2 separate regions of the Homo sapiens genome follow, and region 2 is linked to region 1. The links come from fine-mapping of genetic effects on gene expression. A gene starts in region 1. The other region holds a variant in brackets. All regions are shown on one strand. Distances are between the middles of the regions.

The links. PIP is the estimated chance that this variant, and not a neighbour inherited with it, causes the effect. A credible set is the group of variants that fine-mapping cannot tell apart.
Region 2: its variant is the best candidate, but not a certain one, in a credible set for the expression of TSPAN15 in whole blood (TOPMed, PIP 0.52).

What each region holds. Positions count from the first base shown.
Region 1 is chr10:69,446,799-69,454,798 of GRCh38, forward strand. TSPAN15 (tetraspanin 15) reads left to right here and starts at 4,667. Exons shown (of 8, transcript NM_012339.5): 1 at 4,667-4,892. The coding sequence starts at 4,797. RefSeq lists enhancers at 1,251-1,752, 3,070-3,688, 3,689-4,306, 4,256-4,395, 5,187-5,687 and a silencer at 4,516-4,825.
Region 2 is chr10:69,397,600-69,408,239 of GRCh38, forward strand. HK1 (hexokinase 1) reads left to right here. Exons shown (of 18, transcript NM_000188.3): 17 at 996-1,229; 18 at 3,392-4,283. The coding sequence ends at 3,536. It overlaps TACR2 (tachykinin receptor 2), which reads right to left. Exons shown (of 5, transcript NM_001057.3): 4 at 9,485-9,681; 5 at 6,304-7,485. The coding sequence ends at 7,227. Among named protein-coding and RNA genes, the nearest start is that of TACR2, 14 kb to the right of the region's middle. The variant C/G (reference allele first, on the strand shown) is at 6,414.

The sequences.
Region 1 (8,000 bases):
CACAGGAGAAGCTCGTTGTGCATTTGCTGACTCATCTATTGACTGTGAGAATTATAGCTAAGATTGTTAGAGCTGGAAGAGAAACAGGCCAACCTCATTGTTTCACAGGTGGGGAAACAGAGGCACAGACAGAGACCTTTGCCCAGTGGCATGAATACAGACATACCCAAGTCAAATTGGTCATGCATAATTGTTAGCTTCTTTTTCACAAACTGTAATAGCCATTAAAGGCAAGGGTTAGTCATTTCCCCCTAAATCTCACTGTCAAGTTATCAAGAAAACAGATCTCAGGACGGATTCTGCTGCCCATACGAATGTCTATAAAACAAACATTTATTAGCTAGTAGCCACAAAATTGGTTCATACAACCTTTCTGTGAAACTCAAAAAGGCCCAGCTTTCTGTCCTTTTAGGAGCTCTTCCACCTTGCAAGAAGGGTCTGCTGGAGGAAAATACAATATTCTAAAGGCAGGACTCAGTTTGACTGATGGCTGCATTGGAATACTTTGAGACAGAAGCACTCTCAAGCCTTTAGCTCAGTGTATTATCCATAAGTGAGAATTAGCAGCTTCCCAAGATTCTTTGACACTGTTTGAACAAGGAATGGGTGGTGCCAAAACTATTTTAGCCAATCTAAATATCTTTAATACTGTTAATTTCTCCAAAGGAGACTCATTTCTAATACCTGTTATGCTAATTAATAAGCCCAGAATTTTACCAATCCATTCATTATGCTAATTAGAAAAGCCTTGGGGGTGGATTGAGATATGGATATTTGCATGGGATACTGAGTGATTGTTCCAGACTCTGCATGCCTCTGAACTCCCAAGTTCATTGAAGTGAAGTTGGTAACTTAAAATCAGACATGGTGGAAGTATTTACTTTATGGAAATTGGAATCCCCCACACCAGCTAGTTTTTAAATATTTACCAGTATATCAGTGGATAGCTGAGTAAGTGACTTCTGGAATGTGGCTTTCTGGTAAGATGTTGGCTGACAACCTTACCCTCATGACTACCTCTGTACCAGTGATGCTTAATTCTGGTTGCACTTTAGAAATTACCTGGGGGAGTCCAGACACAATGGCTCATGTCTGTAATCCTAGCACTTAGGGAGGCGGAGGTGGGCTGATGATTTGAGGTCAGGAGTTCAAGACCAGCCTGACCAACATGGTGAAACTTGTCTCTACTAAAATACAAAAATTAGCTGGGTGTGGTGGCGGGGGCCTGTAATGTCAGCTACTTGGTAGGCTGAGGCAGGAGAATCACTTGAACCTGTATAGCGGAGGTTGCAGTGAGTCAAGATCACGCCACTGCACTCCAGCCTGGGTGACAGAGCAAGACTGCCTCTCAAAAAAATAAAAATAAACATAAAAATGAGAAATTACCTGGGGAGTTTAAAAATAATACTGATTACCACGTTCCTGTTGGTGGGGATTTTGACTTGACTGCAGTGGGGCTTGAATATCAGGATACATTTAAAGCTTACCAGGTGCTTTTAGTCTGCAGCTAGGGTTGCATTCACACCTGTGTGTCACACTATGCCACACATTCTAACAGTCCTACAAAAAAGTAATGGCAAAACCAGGATTTGCACCAGGCCTGCTGGCCCCTAGGCCAGAGTTCCTGGCTAAAGGAGGAAAAGTGGGAAACAGATGGCCATTTCTTCTGAGGTCTCAGTGTTTGCAAATGTGGTTCAGGAGGAGCCCTAGTGCTTGGGGTCAGGGTCAGGATTGCAGGTGGGGAGGCACAGTGAAGAAGCCCAGCAGCCAGGGAAAGGCTGTGCCAGCCCCAAAGAGCTCCAAGGCTCTTTGTAGGGATGGCTCACCTCGAGGGCTTAGGGAGAGCTGAGAGGGCTTGCTAAGAAGCTTGTGTGTCACCAGGGAATATTTGAAAGATGAGAGAAAATGCAGCTGGCTGGAGAGGCCAGAAGGGAAGAATAGAAGTCCAGGGGCAACTGGGAAGGAAACCTGATGGAGGTGTGTGGCAGTTTCGACTGTAGTTTAAATATGGAGAATGAAAGGGAACTAGGAGGCTAAACTAGCCTTCCAGGGTATGAAGAGGGTTCCAAGCTTCTATGGGTGGGGAAGAGACTAGCACCTCAAATAATGGGTGTGGACTTAGCTCTGCAGGGCTGGGTGGAGGCTCTAGCCCTCAAAGAGGAATAAAAAGTTAGTCTTCCTCCTCAAAGGACAGAAAGGACAACTTTTTTTTTTTTTGGGGACCGAGTCTCGCTCTGTCATCCAGGCTGGAGTGCAGTGGCACGATCTTGACTCATTGCAACCTCTGCTATCCAGGTTCAAGTGATTCTCCTGCCTCAGCCTCCCGAGTAGCTGGGATTACAGGCACCCATCACCATGCCCGGCTAATTTTTGTATTTTTAGTAGAGCCAGGGTTTCACCATGTTGGCCAGGCTGATCTTGAGCTCCTGACCTCGAGTGATCCCCCTGCCTTGGCCTCCCAAAGTGTTGGGATTACAGGTGTGAGCCACCGCGCCCGGCCAGAATGGACAACTTTTAACACTATGGTAAGATGCCTTCTTGGCCCTCAGATAATCATTTGAGGGCAGCTTGCATTACTCTCTGGTTCTCTTTCCACCTTTTCTTTTCCCTGTTGTTTTTTTTTTGAGACAGGGTCTTGCTTTGTTGTCCAGGCTGGAGTGCCGTAGCACAATCATAGCTCACTGCAGCCTTGATCTTTTGGGCTCGAGAAGTGATACCCCCACCTCACCCTCCCAAGTAGCTGGGACTACAGGCACGAGACACCATGCTTGGCTAATTTTTTTGATTTTCAGTGGAGATGAGGTCTTGCTACGTTGCCCAGACTGGTCTGAAACTCCTGGACTCAAGCAAACCTCTCACCTTGGCCTCCCAAAGTGCAGGGATTACAGGCATGAGCCACTGTGCCTGGCTCTGGTTCTATTTCTCTACCCCACACAAACATCCTCCCAAGGTTTGTTTGTTTTGTACCAGGAAATTGGTTTCCTTTTACCCTTCCAGGCATGGCACTGCCTCCCTCCCCACCCCCCAATCTTGCTTTCTTCCTCCTAGGGCAGAGCTCTGGGGGCTAAAGCCAGCCTGGACTAAGTCTCTGAGTCTGTCCTTCTCTGTTGAGTTTGTGTATGCAGGAGCCCTGGGAACCCAGGACTGGGGACTTGTATAAGAGTGTCGTTCCTGAAATCACCACCAGGGACCCCACCCAGCACTGCTAGAGCTTATGACCTCTGCCATGGATTTAATTACTGAAGGCCACAGCAGGGATTGTCTGGCTCCCAAGTCCCAGGCTGAGCTAGGCTTGGGAGACAGGAAACAACAGTGAGTAAAGCTGGGACCATCTAGCATGAGAGACAGGCTCACAGCCACCTCTGGTCCCAGGCTGAGAAAAGGCCAGGTGGGAGGAGGCTGGGTTAGTGGCTGGCTATGTGCAAGAGAGGGAGCTGCCTCCCTCACCTATAGTTTCTGTTTGTTTGTTTTTTGTTTTTTTGAGATGGAGTCTCCCTTTGTCACCCAGGCTGGAGTGCAGTGGCGGGATCTCGGTTCACTGTAACTTCCGCCTCCCGGGTTCAAGCGATTCTCCTGCTTCAGCCTCCCCAGTAGCTGGGACTACAGGCATGCACCACCCTGCCCGGCTAATTTTTTTTGTATTTCTTAGTAGAGACAGGGTTTCACCACGTTGTCCAGGCTAGTCTCGAACTCCTGACCTCAAGTGATCCGCACGCCTTGGCCTCCCAAAGTGTTGGTATTACAGGCGTGAGCCACCGTGCCCGGCCTTGTTTTTGTTTTTGTTTTGGAGAGAGGGTCTCACTCTGTCTCCCAGGCTGGAGTGCACTGGCACAATCACGGCTCACTGCAGCCTTGACTTCCCTGACTCAAGCGATTCTCCCGCCTGTCTCCCAAGTAGCTGGGACAACAGGCGCGCCACCGTGCCTGGCTTTTTATTTTTTTTAATTATAGAGTCGGCGTTTTGCCATGTTGCCCAGGCTGGTCTTGAACTCCTGGGGCTCAAGCCATTCGCCCTCCTCAGCCTCCCAAAGTGCTGGGATTACAGGCGTGAGTCACCGCGCCAGGCCTTCAACCTAGTTTGAAGATGGGGTTTCCCGGGAGGAACCCTTCCCAAGGCTGGGTTATCACCTGGCAAAAGAAGGGGACTTCCGAGGTCGTTTGGTGAAGGCCTTCAGCAGATCTGTTTCACGAGCAAACTTCAGACTCCAGCTCCATGGGGGCCTATTAGCCCCACCCTGGTCTGCCTCCCTGAGCCTTCCTGAGCCGAGCAACTCCACTTCCTTATTCCATTCACGTTTAGCACACTCATTTGCACTTTCAACACCTGGGCGATTAATTCTTGCCCTTTTCCCAAAGTTTTCCCTCTTGACAAGAGGAAAGCTTGCATTTCTATGTACCCCGATTAGGCACGCTCGCTCTCTCCTTAGAGCACCTCTGGTTCACCTCTCCCACGCCCCCTGCATTAGCACAGGCGTTTCCAGAGTTGCACGCGAGCTCATTTGCAAGACCGTCTCCCCCTCCCATCCCTTCTTGGTCCCCTCTAGGGCCCAGGGCAGCAGCCCCGCCCCTGGCCCGCCCCCTCCCAGACGCTAGGCAGCCGCGGCCTCCCATTGGCCGCCAGGGCTGGCAGGCTTCCCGGCTGGGGCTGTGATTGCCGCGCTCCAGTGTCAGTCCCGGAGAGAACGCCGGTGGCGGGGCTGGTAGCCCGGCAGCCGCAGGTGGGGCCACGAGCGCTGGCTGAGGGACCGAGCCGGAGAGCCCCGGAGCCCCCGTAACCCGCGCGGGGAGCGCCCAGGATGCCGCGCGGGGACTCGGAGCAGGTGCGCTACTGCGCGCGCTTCTCCTACCTCTGGCTCAAGTTTTCACTTATCATCTATTCCACCGTGTTCTGGGTGAGTGACCCCAGTAGGGCCCGGGGATGGGGGTGGGGACCCACAATCCGGCCGCCCCCTCACTGGCCCGGGGTTGGGTCCACACTTAGCCGCTCCAGGGAGTGCGCGGGTGAGCGCGCGCGGACTCCTTGTCTTTCTACCTCACATTCGGGCGGCCAGAGCTCAGCCTGAATTTTCAGCCGCCCTTTCGGGAGTGTGAGAGCCGGTTGTCGACCGACCGAGTGCCACCTGGCTCACCTGTGTGCACCGGCTGGGCGGTTTGCCCGCTGTGCGTCCGCTGGCCGGCTGGCTAGGCTGAGGTGAACGCGCTGGCCGCGCCCACCACGCCTACCCGGTAGGACTGACTGCCTCTGCATCGGCCTGTGGAGCTTAAGTAGTTAGGATTTGCAGTCGGGGTTGGGAGACCTGGATTCCGGGTCTGGTCCCTGCTAGTTACTTGCTGATGCCCCTGAGCGAGACGCTTCCCCGCTCCGTCTTGGTTTCCTCTTTGGTGGATGCACGTGCCTCCTGCGTGGCGAGGAGAAGTCCACCAGACGACGTCTCCTGCACACCTAGGTGCTCAGTTTCCGCTGTCGCTGGGCTTTACCTCCTCCTCTGCCTTGTTAGGGGGCAGGATGGTAGTGTTTAGACATGAACCAAGCTTTGAATTCCGTCGCTCCGAGTGGTCTTTTATTTTATATTTTATTTTTTATTTAAAACATTGCTAATCTCTGTATCGTTCCAATTTCAGTTTGTGCGTTTCTGAAATGAGCACTTGCTGAGTGATCTTGGGGAAGTTACTTCATTCCTCTCGGCCATGGTTTCCTCATCTGTAAATGGACACAGTAATTATATTCAACTTGTAGGATGCTCGCGGAGATTACGTGAAATAGGCCGGGTATGGTGCCTAGTGAAGAGCTCAAGAAGTGTGAGACATTATTACTATCGTGGGCAGGGAATTTGGACACCTGTGGTGTAAGCTGCCCCAAGAGATTGGGTTTCTGTAAGGGCGTTTCATATTAGGCTGGGCCCTATTCTAGAGATGAGGATATCTTCCTATAGGCCAGCTCCGCCCCTGTCACTCCAGAATCGCTCTCTGCCTGCAGTATGCCACAAGAGCAGACTTGCCCAGGGACCCAGGGTGGTCACTGACACCCCATTCCCACCAAATACACACACTCTCCCCTGGTGTCCTCCTTAGCCCCTTGCTGGGTCTCTTCTGCTAGCAGGAGCTGCTGGATTTGCCATCAGGACTGGCTTTCCCTGTGACCCCTTTGTGGGTGGGGCCTTGCCTGGTAATCGGAGATCCAGATTCAGCTCTGTTACTGACTTATGGATATCTTAGGCAAGTCACTTTCCTGTTTTGGGCCTCAGAACTGTTCATTGACTTTTCCATCTAGAAGACTAGTCTGAGGCCAGTTTCCAATCCAATTCTCTGACTCTAGGTAATGTGGAGGAGAGATGAACAGTATGTTTGGGGGGCGGAGGATGGAGCAAGGACCTGTTGGTGGAAGCTCTAGGGAGACAGAAGGTCATATGTGGGATGGGAGTGGGGGTGATTTGAGCTATAAATCAGCGGTTGCATCAGATTCTTGTGCCCTGGCATAGGTATTTATTTAAATTTACATAAGCTTAATTGTAGTAAATTACTTACTAGAATTAAGGTAATTCTAGTGTGCAGTCAGTATTGAAAACTGCTGCCCTAGATGGTCTCATAGGTCCCCTAAGTCCCCAGGATTTCTGTGCCTGCCCCTTGTGTGTTCTGTGAGCCCTTCTCTCTGTAAATCAGAGTTGAAAGAGCCTAAGGTTGATGGGTGGGGAGGTAGGAAGATGGAGTTGTATTTTGGGCTTCACCCCTTCCCCAGATATATAATCACAAACCAGTCTCTCTACCTCCTCACGTTTCCATTTTCTCATCTATAAAATGAATAAGTGAATCTCTGCCCTGTACCTCACTGAATTGTTTTAGGATTAGTGATATGGGGAAAGAGTGACATATGAGCAAAATCAGTGCAGTACAAACATACCTCATGCAGTTAAATAAAACTGAACTCTAATTTTTAAGGCTTTGTTCTGTCACTGTCCTTTGCAGCCCCCAGAGAAGCCCACCCAATGGCCCTTGCCTTGCTTCTCTTGGGCAGGGTGGTTCTCAGAACTTGGAATCCCTCCTCTGCCAACTGAGGTTGCCTTACCAAATCCTTAACTCCCATCCCTGGAAGTATTTCTGTTTAAAAGTCTCTACACCCATGCCAAGAACTCAGCCACCTGCCAACTCTGCCAGAGCAGCTCCAGGTGCCAGAGTTTGACTGCAGGGCAGGGCCCAGTGTGAGTAAGTAATCTGTCCTGGACCAGGTTTACTGTTATTTGGAAACCATTTACAGGAAAGCCTATTATCTCTGGTGCCATCTCTGGTGCCATCTCTGGGGTTGAGGGAAGGGTTACTTGCTTTGTAAGTCCAAACTGCTAGCAATTTGCATCTCAGTTTTTAGGTCTGGAGGGCCATAAGTTTTATGACAGCCTTGTACCTTCTGTAAGACTTTTTGCTTACTTTAAAAATTACTACTGGGGCCGGGCCCGGTGGCTCATGCTTGTAATCCCAGCATTTTGGGAGACTGAGGCGGGAGGATCACCCGAGGTCTGGAGTTTGAGACCAGCCTGGCTAACATGGTGAAACCTCATCTCTACTAAAAATACAAAAATTAGCCAGGCGTGGTGGTGTGTGCCTGTAATCCCAGCTACTCGGGAGGCTGAAGCATGAGAATTGTTTGAACCCAGGAGGTGGAGGTTGCAGTGAGCTGACATCGTGCCACGGCACTGTAGTTGGGTGACAGTGTAAGACTCGGTTTAAAAAAAAAAATTACTATTGACCAGGCATTGTGGCTCATGCCTGTAATCCTAGCACTTTGGAAGGCCAAGATGGGCAGATTGCTTGAACCTGGGAGTTCGAGACCAGCCTGGGCAACATGATGAAACTCTGTCTCTACTAAAAATACAAAAATTAGCTGGGCGTGGTGGCATGCACCTGTAGTCACAGCTACTTGGGAGGCTGAGGTAGGAGGATCACCTGAGCTCAGGAGACGGAGGTTGAAGTGAGTTGAGATTGTGCCACTGCACTCCAGCCTGCATGAG
Region 2 (10,640 bases), 48 kb before region 1:
TCTCCCAGCCTCAGTTGCCTTATCTTTAAAATGGGAATAATCATACATTCATTGGTTGTTTGAGGAGTAAGTAAGGTAATGTATGTAAAATATATGTTACATGGTAAGTCCTCCAAGAAGCCTGGCTGGTCTTCATTGTACCATCCCAGTTATCGTCTCTTTCAATTTAATATAAATAAGACAAATATATCAGGAGAAAAGTCTTGAGACGTAAGAAGTAGTTTATATGGCCAAAAAACAAATGGAAAAAAAAGAGATCATCCTCACTAATAGAGAATAATATAAATTGAACTACAGTCTTGTGATGCCTTCTTATAAAACTGTCAAAAGTTGTAAAAAAATGCTCTTTTCCAGTGAGGATAAGTGTGGCCAAATACTCTGCTGAAGAGTAAATGGATACAATTTTCTGTAAGGCATCTGGCAATGTGTAGCAAAAGCTCGTTGACCCAGAAATTTATCCTAAGGAAAAACATCAGAATTGCACACAAAGATTTATAAACAAACCTTATCAAAATGTTTCTTTATAATAGCAGAAAATTGCAATTAACTTGAATTTCTCCAAGCTGGCTAAAGAAATCATGGTGCATCCCTAGAGGGAATACTGCAGCAGCTGTTTCCAATCCTGTTCTCAGATAAGGCTGTGGGAAATTGCTCAATGCATGAAACAGGAAAGAGAAAGAAAATCACATATCAAGGATAATCCCATTTTGCATATCATGAGAAGCATACCAGCTAGGAAAAATAAACTGGAAGGAAATATATTAAAATGTTAATAGCATTTTCCTAGATGTTGAGATAGTGAATGGTTTAGATTTTCCAATTTTTATTTTGCTAGATTTGCCAAATTCTCCACAGTTTAACATGTAACACTTGCCCTTGACTCTGTCTGTGGATGAGTACAGTGATTGGGGGCGGGGGGCGTCCTTTGGACGTGGTCTCCAGGCTGCTCTTGTGGGTCCTGCTTCATCCAGCCCTCTGGCTCTTGTCCCCCACAGTGACCGATTAGCACTGCTCCAGGTCCGGGCTATCCTCCAGCAGCTAGGTCTGAATAGCACCTGCGATGACAGTATCCTCGTCAAGACAGTGTGCGGGGTGGTGTCCAGGAGGGCCGCACAGCTGTGTGGCGCAGGCATGGCTGCGGTTGTGGATAAGATCCGCGAGAACAGAGGACTGGACCGTCTGAATGTGACTGTGGGAGTGGACGGGACACTCTACAAGCTTCATCCACAGTGAGTGGGCCTTCCAGTTGGGATGCGCAGAGCTTGCTGGGATCCCTTTGGGTTAGGGGGTATCAGGGTGTGGTTTACGCTGGGGAAATGCCCTGCGGGAGCCCAGCCAGGCTGAAGGCTGTGCGTTCAGGAGCTGGGGATTGTCTAGGACAAGGTAATGAACAGTTTGTAGGGTTTGACTGGGATCCTTAGGGAGACAGAGAAGTGGCTTCACTTGGCCAGCTCACACCAGTGGCATGATGTGACCCTCACCCCACTCCTCCTGGTCCCCCTTAGGTGGGGGCTAGGCAGTGGGAGAGGAGGTGAGGGTGGGCGTGGGCTCACTCATAAGCCTGGTGAGCTGTAGCCAGGCCAGAGGCTCTGTTGGGTAAGTGGGGAGAGGATATTAAGAAAGGGGAGGAGCTGGGTGCAGTGGTTCACACCTGTAATCCAGCACTTTGGGAGGCCTAGGTGGGAGGACTGCTTCAGTCCAGGAGTTTGAGACCAGCCTAGGCAACATAGTGAGACCTTGTCTGTACAAAAAAATTTTGAAAATTAGCCAGGGATGGTGGTGAATGCCTGTAGTCCCAGCTACTCGGGAGGCTGAGGGAAGAGGATTGCTTGAGCCTGGGAGGTGGAGGTTGCAGTGAGCCCAGATCACGCCACTGTACTCCAGCCTGGGCAACAGAGTGAGACCCTATTTCAAAAAATAAAATAGGAAAGGAGGATAGCCACTCTCTTGTTCATCTGCTGAATCAGTTTGCTAAGACTTGGAAGGGCGGGAGCGGTTTGGGCCCTGGGCTTCATGGCAGGGAGGGGTAGGGAGTGGCCTCCCTCTGGTCAGGCATCTGACCCCCCATGCCAGAGAAGGACATGTGATTGCACTTGCTGTGTGATTGTGATCCACCGCATGTCTCACCTTATGAATAGGGTGACCATATTATTTATTTATTGTCTACACTAGGGTACTCTTGCCAGTCAAGAGTGCTAATAATTATTACTCTGGGACTGTAGGCAAACTAGGACCATCCCAGATAAATGAGGCCATAGTGTCACCCTACTTATAAGCAACCTCACCCGACTCAGTGTAGACATTACCTGCTTACCTCATGGCCGTGGCTTGGGGTGGAACCATCTGTCTTGCTCCATCCTCACCTCTGTCTCTCCCCCTTAATAGCTGTCCTTGCCATCAGCTGAGGCAGCACACAGGAGTGGTTTAGAGCTAGGCTTTGGAGCCACATACTCTTGGATTTAACCCTGGCACCGTCACTTAGAATCTGTGTGCAATTGCTTAATCCCTGCAAAATCTCATCTTCCTCATGAGGTGGCAGCCACTGGCAGGACTAGAAATTAGAGCTGTAAAATATGGGGCACCTAGTAGGTCCTCAAACTCCTTGGCTCAAGTGATCCTCCCACCTTGGCCTCCCAAAGTGCTGGCATGAGCCACCGCACTCCGCCCACCTAATAGGTCCCCAACCAAGGACAGTGACTACTTTTGAGAGCCCCTCACCACAAGCATCTTCAGCCTGGCCCTGCCCTTCATTTTGAGCCCAACTTACAAGCATGTAGATTCAGCCTTTGTTCAGATACTATCTTCACTGGAAGGCATTCCTGTCTTTGGGGGCCAGGCTGTTGATGGTGGGGCGCTGGGGGTCTCAGGGTTGCAGCTGGAGATGGGTGATATTCATTCCTGCATAGCCTCCTGAACCGATCCAGTGCTTGGCTGGCTTGCACCTGCCTTAATGATCCATGTCAGCCCCTAACATCCTCCTTGGTTTTGAGGTCCCCCTGGAGCCTCAAGCTCCGATGTGGGTGTGTGTGTTATTCATGTCCTAGCCTTCATAAGCCATACAGAGCAGTTGTGTTTGGATTCGCAGTTGGGCCTCCCTGCTGAAAACTGTGACAATGGGATTGACCGTGGGCCCACTTTCCTCCCAGCCATTCTCAACTGGCCACAGCTGCTTCTAAGCAGCCTGCCTCCCAACCATGTTCACCCTCCTTGTTGTTGGGTTCAGAGTCTCTTTGACTTCCGATGCTTATGTCCTGATAAACCCATCACAAAGTCGAAGAATCCTAAGTCGAATCATCACCAGTCAGGGGGCTGTCTGTGCTTTGGTGTTTTCGGGTAGGCCCAGCGTCTCTCATCTTCCTCCAACTACCTTCTGTTTTCTCGTCCTTTTTAGCTTCTCCAGAATCATGCACCAGACGGTGAAGGAACTGTCACCAAAATGTAACGTGTCCTTCCTCCTGTCTGAGGATGGCAGCGGCAAGGGGGCCGCCCTCATCACGGCCGTGGGCGTGCGGTTACGCACAGAGGCAAGCAGCTAAGAGTCCGGGATCCCCAGCCTACTGCCTCTCCAGCACTTCTCTCTTCAAGCGGCGACCCCCTACCCTCCCAGCGAGTTGCGCTGGGAGACGCTGGCGCCAGGGCCTGCCGGCGCGGGGAGGAAAGCAAAATCCAACTAATGGTATATATTGTAGGGTACAGAATAGAGCGTGTGCTGTTGATAATATCTCTCACCCGGATCCCTCCTCACTTGCCCTGCCACTTTGCATGGTTTGATTTTGACCTGGTCCCCCACGTGTGAAGTGTAGTGGCATCCATTTCTAATGTATGCATTCATCCAACAGAGTTATTTATTGGCTGGAGATGGAAAATCACACCACCTGACAGGCCTTCTGGGCCTCCAAAGCCCATCCTTGGGGTTCCCCCTCCCTGTGTGAAATGTATTATCACCAGCAGACACTGCCGGGCCTCCCTCCCGGGGGCACTGCCTGAAGGCGAGTGTGGGCATAGCATTAGCTGCTTCCTCCCCTCCTGGCACCCACTGTGGCCTGGCATCGCATCGTGGTGTGTCAATGCCACAAAATCGTGTGTCCGTGGAACCAGTCCTAGCCGCGTGTGACAGTCTTGCATTCTGTTTGTCTCGTGGGGGGAGGTGGACAGTCCTGCGGAAATGTGTCTTGTCTCCATTTGGATAAAAGGAACCAACCAACAAACAATGCCATCACTGGAATTTCCCACCGCTTTGTGAGCCGTGTCGTATGACCTAGTAAACTTTGTACCAATTCAAAGACCCGAGTGATGCTTAATGGCTGGGGACGGGGGGACAGGCAGAGGGGGGTGCAGTTTCTTGGGATGTGGCAAAGACCAAACACTGGGGAGTTTTGTGGCCTTCTGGGCGGAGGAGTTTTTTTTTTTGAGATGGAGTCTTGCCCTGTCACCCAGGCTGGAGTGCAGTGGCACAATCTCAGCTCAGTGCAACCTCTGCCTCCCGAGTTCAAGTGATTCTCCTGCCTCAGCCTCCTGAGTAGTTGAGACTACAGGCGTGCATCCCCACACCCAGCTAATTTTTGTATTTTTAGTAGAGAAGGGGTTTCACCATGTTGGCCAGGCTGGTCTCCAACTCCTGACCTCAAGTGATCTGCCTGCCTTGGCCTCCTAAAGTGCTGGGATTATAGAACAAGGCCACTTGGCTTCCAGGCTGCTTGGGTTCAGTGAGAGGACTGCAACACTGGTCCCCTCTCTGCCATCCCCACCCGGATCCTGCCCTTCATCTTCCTCTCTGCCAACCCCAAGACAAAGGATGAAATGTGCTCTGCCCCACCCCTCCCCTCCCTCTCTACCCAAACACAGATGAAATCTTGAAGCAGCCCAGGCTGGCTGCACGCTCCCGCTCCCGGATCTTTTTTCTTTATTTTTTATTTTTATTTTCTGTAGACAGGGTCTCACTGTGTTGCCAGGGCTGGTCTCCAACTCCTGAGCTCAAGCAATCTGCCCCCCTCAGCCTCCCATAGTGCTGGGATTATAGGCGTGAGCCATCGCTCCCGGCCCACCCCTTCTGGATCTTAGATTGACCTCATCCCTAGGAAATTAACCCTTGTCTGACCTTTTACTCTCCCTTCCCACCCCCACCTCAAGAGATTCCTGGTCTATCCCCAGGCTACCATTTTGGATTCTCCCCCAGCCTTGGTGGGTTCCATGTCACTCTGCACCCAAGCACCTTGTGATGTCCCAAGCCACAGCTGCGGCTCTAAGTGGCTTCCTGCGAGACCGATTGCCAGACCACCTGGTTTGGTGAGATCAGAGTCCCTTTATTAGGGGCATGGTGCTGGTGTCTACGGAGCAGTGATTTTTTGGAGAACACAGATAACATTACACCTTCCAGTGTGCATTGACAATGTTACATGGCTCTTCTGCAGGGGAACCAGGGCGTGGAGGCTGAGTTGGCAAGCAGGAGGTGTGCCCCTGGGATGGGCTGGGCCAGACCGGGAGCTTTCTGGGAGTTGGGACAGTTGCTGCTTTCTGCCCTCTAGCTTCTTGCTGCAGAAGTGGGAGTGGGAGCTGTGCTGCTGCTTTGTAGGTGGCTTTTGTGTGAAATAGTTAAAAGTCATGGCTAACAGCCAGGTGTGGTGGCTCACATCTGTAATCCCACCACTTCAGGAGACAGGCAGGAGGAATGGTTGAGCCCAGGAGTTCAAGACCAGCCTGGGCAACATAGCAAGACCCCATATCTACAAAAAACTTAAAAACTAGCTGGGTGTGGTGGTATGTATCTGTGGTCCCAGCTACAGGGGAGACTGAGGCAGGAGGATCCCCTGAGCCCAGGAGGTTGAGGCTGCACTGAATCATGATGGTGCCACTGCACTCCTGCCTGGGTCTCAGAGTGAGGTGAGACCCTGTCTCATAAAAAAAAAAAAAAAAAAAAAGAAAGTCCTGGCTACCATGTATTGGGCACTTAATCTGGTCTGGCCTGCTAGTTTATAGGCATTACTCCCATTGTTCCTCACAGCATCCCTGTGAAGTAGTTTTGATACTGGGCAGAGGTCAAAGTGACTTGCCTGAGGAAACACAGCTGATTTTTTTGGCTCTTAATCACCATCTACGTGGGCTGTATCTGACTTCTTAAATACTGAGACAGAGAAGCCCTCAGCTGACTCAGTCACTGGGCTTTGTGAAATAAGAAGTTTCCTCCTTTGTATCCACAGCCTGATGGCGAATCAGGGTCATGGTTGCATTGCCCACAGATACGTTTTGTTTAACTTATGCAAAGTTTATGAAAATTTGGGTCAAATTCAACAAATCTGGAAGACTCACATACAAATGTGGATTTATAGCTTCTCTTGAAAGATTTAGAAGATCTAGCAACAGTGGGCTCCCATTATCATGTGGCAACGTTTGTCCAGAGCTGAGTAGTTCTTGTC[C/G]CCTTTGAATGCCTGTCCTCTCCAGGTTGCCATGGCCCCCACCATTCCCTATTAGCTCAAACTGAGGGTGGAAGTCAGTTGCCTTTTATCATCACATTTGCAGTTTTTCTTTTATACATATTCTTGTATGCCCCAGGAAGGCATTTGAGCTTGCATCTCTTAAATTAGATAAATATCAGCTTACACTGTCTTTTCTGACCCTTACTGGATCCTCTGAAGTGCTCTCTGAGATGGGTGGCTGAGTCCTCTTAAAGTCAGCATCCTTTCTGGAGTTCTGGCCCCATGTTGTCTTTGTATTGGTATACTGAAGGATGGGGCATGAGCTGAACTTTCAGATGTGGTCTTCTCGATTGGCTACTTCTCAAAGGGTGCTACACCTCATTCTGCAGCCAGGCACAAGGCTTCAGGGTTCAATAGGCACCTATCTCAGTCCATTTGTGTTGCTTTCATGGAATACCTGAGACTAGGTAATTTATAAAGAAAAGAGGTTTATTTGGCTCATGATTCTGGTGGCTGGAATATCCAAGATTGGGCAGCTGCATCTGGTGAAGGCCTCAGGCTGCTTCTTGTCATGGTGGAAAGTGGAAGGGAAGTGTTGTGTGCAAAGAGATCACATGGTGAGAGAGGAAGCAAGACAGGGAAACTGAGGACACCACACTCTTTCTAACAACTTGTTATTTTGGGAACTAGTCCATTCCCACAAGAGTGATGATTCACTTCAACTGGAAGGCATTAATCTATTCATAAGGGATCCATCCCCAATACCCAAACACCTCCCACTAACCCCTACCTCCCAACACTGCCACATTGGGATCAAATTTCAACATGAGTTTTGGTGGGGGCAAGCAAACCATACCCAAACCATAGCCCTGATCCATCCTGGGGACGCCCCGCCTCCCCACTGGTAGCCTCGGAGGGGGCTGTGTCCCCAGCCATGAACAAAGTCTCCTTAGTGTGACACCTGTTGACTCTCGTGGAGAGGGAGGTCGTGGGAGTCAGCTCGAGCTTATCTTCCTTGGTGGGTGTGACCCATGGGCAGCAGCGGAAGGCAAGCCGGAATCCAGAGCGAAACCTGGGGGAGCGAGGGGCACCTTGAGCCAGGGAGTTAGGGGCTCAGGAGCTGTGATGTGACTGCCCCCACCCCCAGGAAACTGACTCCCTTCCAGAGGAAAGTCACTGTCTCTCTCCAAGAGCCTCCCATGGCTCAGGGGCTCTTGAGAGATGCCTTCGTGGGTGAGTTTGATTTTTGGAAACTGCCAGAGTGTTCTGGAGCTGGGTCTAGTGAATGAAGTGGGTGACTAAGCTGATTTAGGTCATCTGTTATTACGAACAAAAAATGACCCCAGCATAATTACTAAAAAAACCAACCAACCAACAAACAAACAAAAAAACCAGCAGATGTTCTTGTCTGACTTGTTAACTGGCTTCTAAGGGATGAGTCAAAGAAGAACCTGCTAAAACACAATGGAGGCTTTGGCAACTTGGGAGAACAAGGATGCTTTTCCCAAGGGGACTACATTGAAAAACCCACACTCGGAGCCACCAAGTTCTGATGCATTTGCTTGAAAACAAACAGCTCTCCCCATGGCAGCACTGAACGGGAGTTCAGAGGAAGCACACACGGTGAGTGGAAGAAATCAGACGGCAGAAAGGGAACGCTGGCTGCTCAGAGAAGGGAATGATCCAGAAGTGATGTCAGGATCTTGTAGAGCCTGGGGTGTTGTTTAGACTCCCAGGGACTGTATCTCCCTTGGGTAGCAGGAGAGTGATCAACCCACAGACACAGTGGGCTGGTGGCCCCTCCCAGATGTCAGAGTCCCTGTCTCCAGGTTTTCAATCCCACAAGTCTTTAAAAGAGAAATGCGTGGTGTGGGGATAAGATGACAGGCCTTGGAGACCCATGGAGTCCTGGCTTTACTGTTTGTTGTATGAATTTGGGAGCATCTTACTTTCTGAAGCTCAGTTTCCCCATCTGTAGAGTGGGGGTGACACCTGCTTCTCTCCTATTATCTACTTCCCTCTCAGGAGATAGAGAGTTCTGGCCTCCTGCAAAAAATCATAGCTCCTTATTTCCTTTTGGCCTGCCCCAGGCGGGTGAAATGTCTGAGCCACAAAGATCCCAATGGCATTATGAGTAGCCTGGCTACCTGGCCAGGGAGGTGACAAAAAACATGAACAAAGAGGTCCAAGGCCAACTTCGCCCACATCATTGTCTCACTGAGGTGAGACTGTGTCCACCTCTTGCCGCCCCTTATTTGCCCCACCTTCAGGGTTTCCTGCCACTGAAAGGCCTGCTCTGCAGAACTCCTGGGGCTGGGTTCCTCCCTGACTCACCACCCCCCACCTCTCCAGGTGCCCCAGAGCAAGTGCAGGCCCCTCTCTGGGACTCATTTCCTCAGAATCACGAGGCGTAGGGAAACTGGATGATGCCAGGAGAGTGAGATTCTGGCCCCCTCCTTCCTGGCTGTCTCTGACAGGGTCACTTCCCAGCTGCCCTGAAAGTCCCTGGAGGACAGGGCATGCACTGTGAGCTTTCCAGGGAGCAGCCTGCCCCACCCCTGTGCTGGCCCCAGCCCCCATCCACTGCTTCCACTGCCGGATGGGTGCCATTCACTTGGCTCCAGGAAAGCCCTCAGTAGGAAGCTTGTGAAAATACTAGAACAGAAGTCAGTCCCTCCCTCCCGCTACTTAGCTTTTCTTTCCTTCGTCTGTCTGTCCCACCCCCTCTCTGTGACTCTCCCCTCCCCTTCATCTCTCTGGCCCTCCCTTCTCTCTTCTCTTGCCCCAGACACAGAACCCAGAAGAGCCAGCAGGAACAGACAGACAGTGAGAGCTACAGCCTGGGAGACGGTGAGGATTTGGGGAGGAAGGGGGCTCAAGCTAGGCCCAGGCCAGAGGGATTATTGTGCTGGGGGCTGAGTGTGAGGACGGCTTTCTCATGTAGGCTGGGGGCACAGGGCCACAGGTTCCGGCAGGAATGAGGATGGATGCTTGAGCTGTGCAGGGGAGCCCACCTGGGGCTGGGCAGTGGGGCCCTGAGGGCAGAGGGTGGGGCTGGAGTGGGGGCTCACCTGTGGTTGAGACAGCAGTAGATGATGGGATTGTACATGGTAGAGCTCATGGCCAACCAGAAGAGTGCCAGGTAGACTTGCTGGATGAACTTGTGGCAGTAGATGTCCTCCTGGAAGCTGCCCAGGATGAAGTAGAGGTGGTAGGGCAGCCAGCAGATGGCAAACGTCAGCACCACCAGCACCATGGTCTTCACAAACTGGTCCAGGAGAGGCTCAAGTTACTTCTTAGTGCCCAAGCCCCAGCCCCAGCCCTCCGAGGGCAGACACAGAGGACCCCTTGCACCCACCTGGGAACTGCTCCACACACAGACCCCGTTAGCTCTATTACTCAGGCCTCTGAGCATGTTTTGCCCAGACCTTCCTGAGCCCCCAACCTCAGAGGCCTGTGCTCAGGCAGGTCCCTCTGCCCATACTGCCATCCTTCCTTTGAAGTCCTCACTCCTTGAAGCCCAGCTCAATGGCCACTTCCTACAAAAGGTGTCTGGGACCCCTTCATTCACTGCAGCTCCCCCTCCCTGGAGAGTGGCTGAGCTCTCTCTCCTAACCCCATCCCTGGGGGAGCCCCTGTGTCAGCTATGCGTTCCCAGGACGCCCCCTCTCTGGGATCCGTATCGGCACAGCCCTTCTCTCTGTGGGCTGTAAGGTTCCAACCAGGGACCCCTGCCTCTGCCCACGGGTCAGCTCCTGGACCTCCCCCTCCTCAGAGCCTGGCCCCTGCAGGCACACTCCTGCTCCGTTTGGCAGCCCAGCATGCCAATTACAAAAGGTCTGGGGGCTCCTGGGCACCCTGATCCTCACGTAGGATCTGGGTTGAGACCCCTAGTGTGGAGCAGATGGAGGCCAGTGCTCCATGAGGGGCACCAGATGGCGCCCATGTGCAGCTATCTCCCCGAACCACCCTGTGAAAGATGCCTACTTTTGGGTGAGAAGCATGGCTTTGACCTGGCTACATGATGTGGTTAACCCATTACCTCCCCTGTTGCCTGGTAGGAAGGGGGCAAGGACAAGCTTGGACTGAAGGAGGGTGAAGGGGGTCTTGGGCACAGAGGGCTACATCAGGACCTTCGGGGGACCCTGGATGGCAGGGAGTAGGGGGACACTGCCACTTCCGGAAGAAACTGGAGACAGATTTGATGAAGCTGGACAACTATCTGGT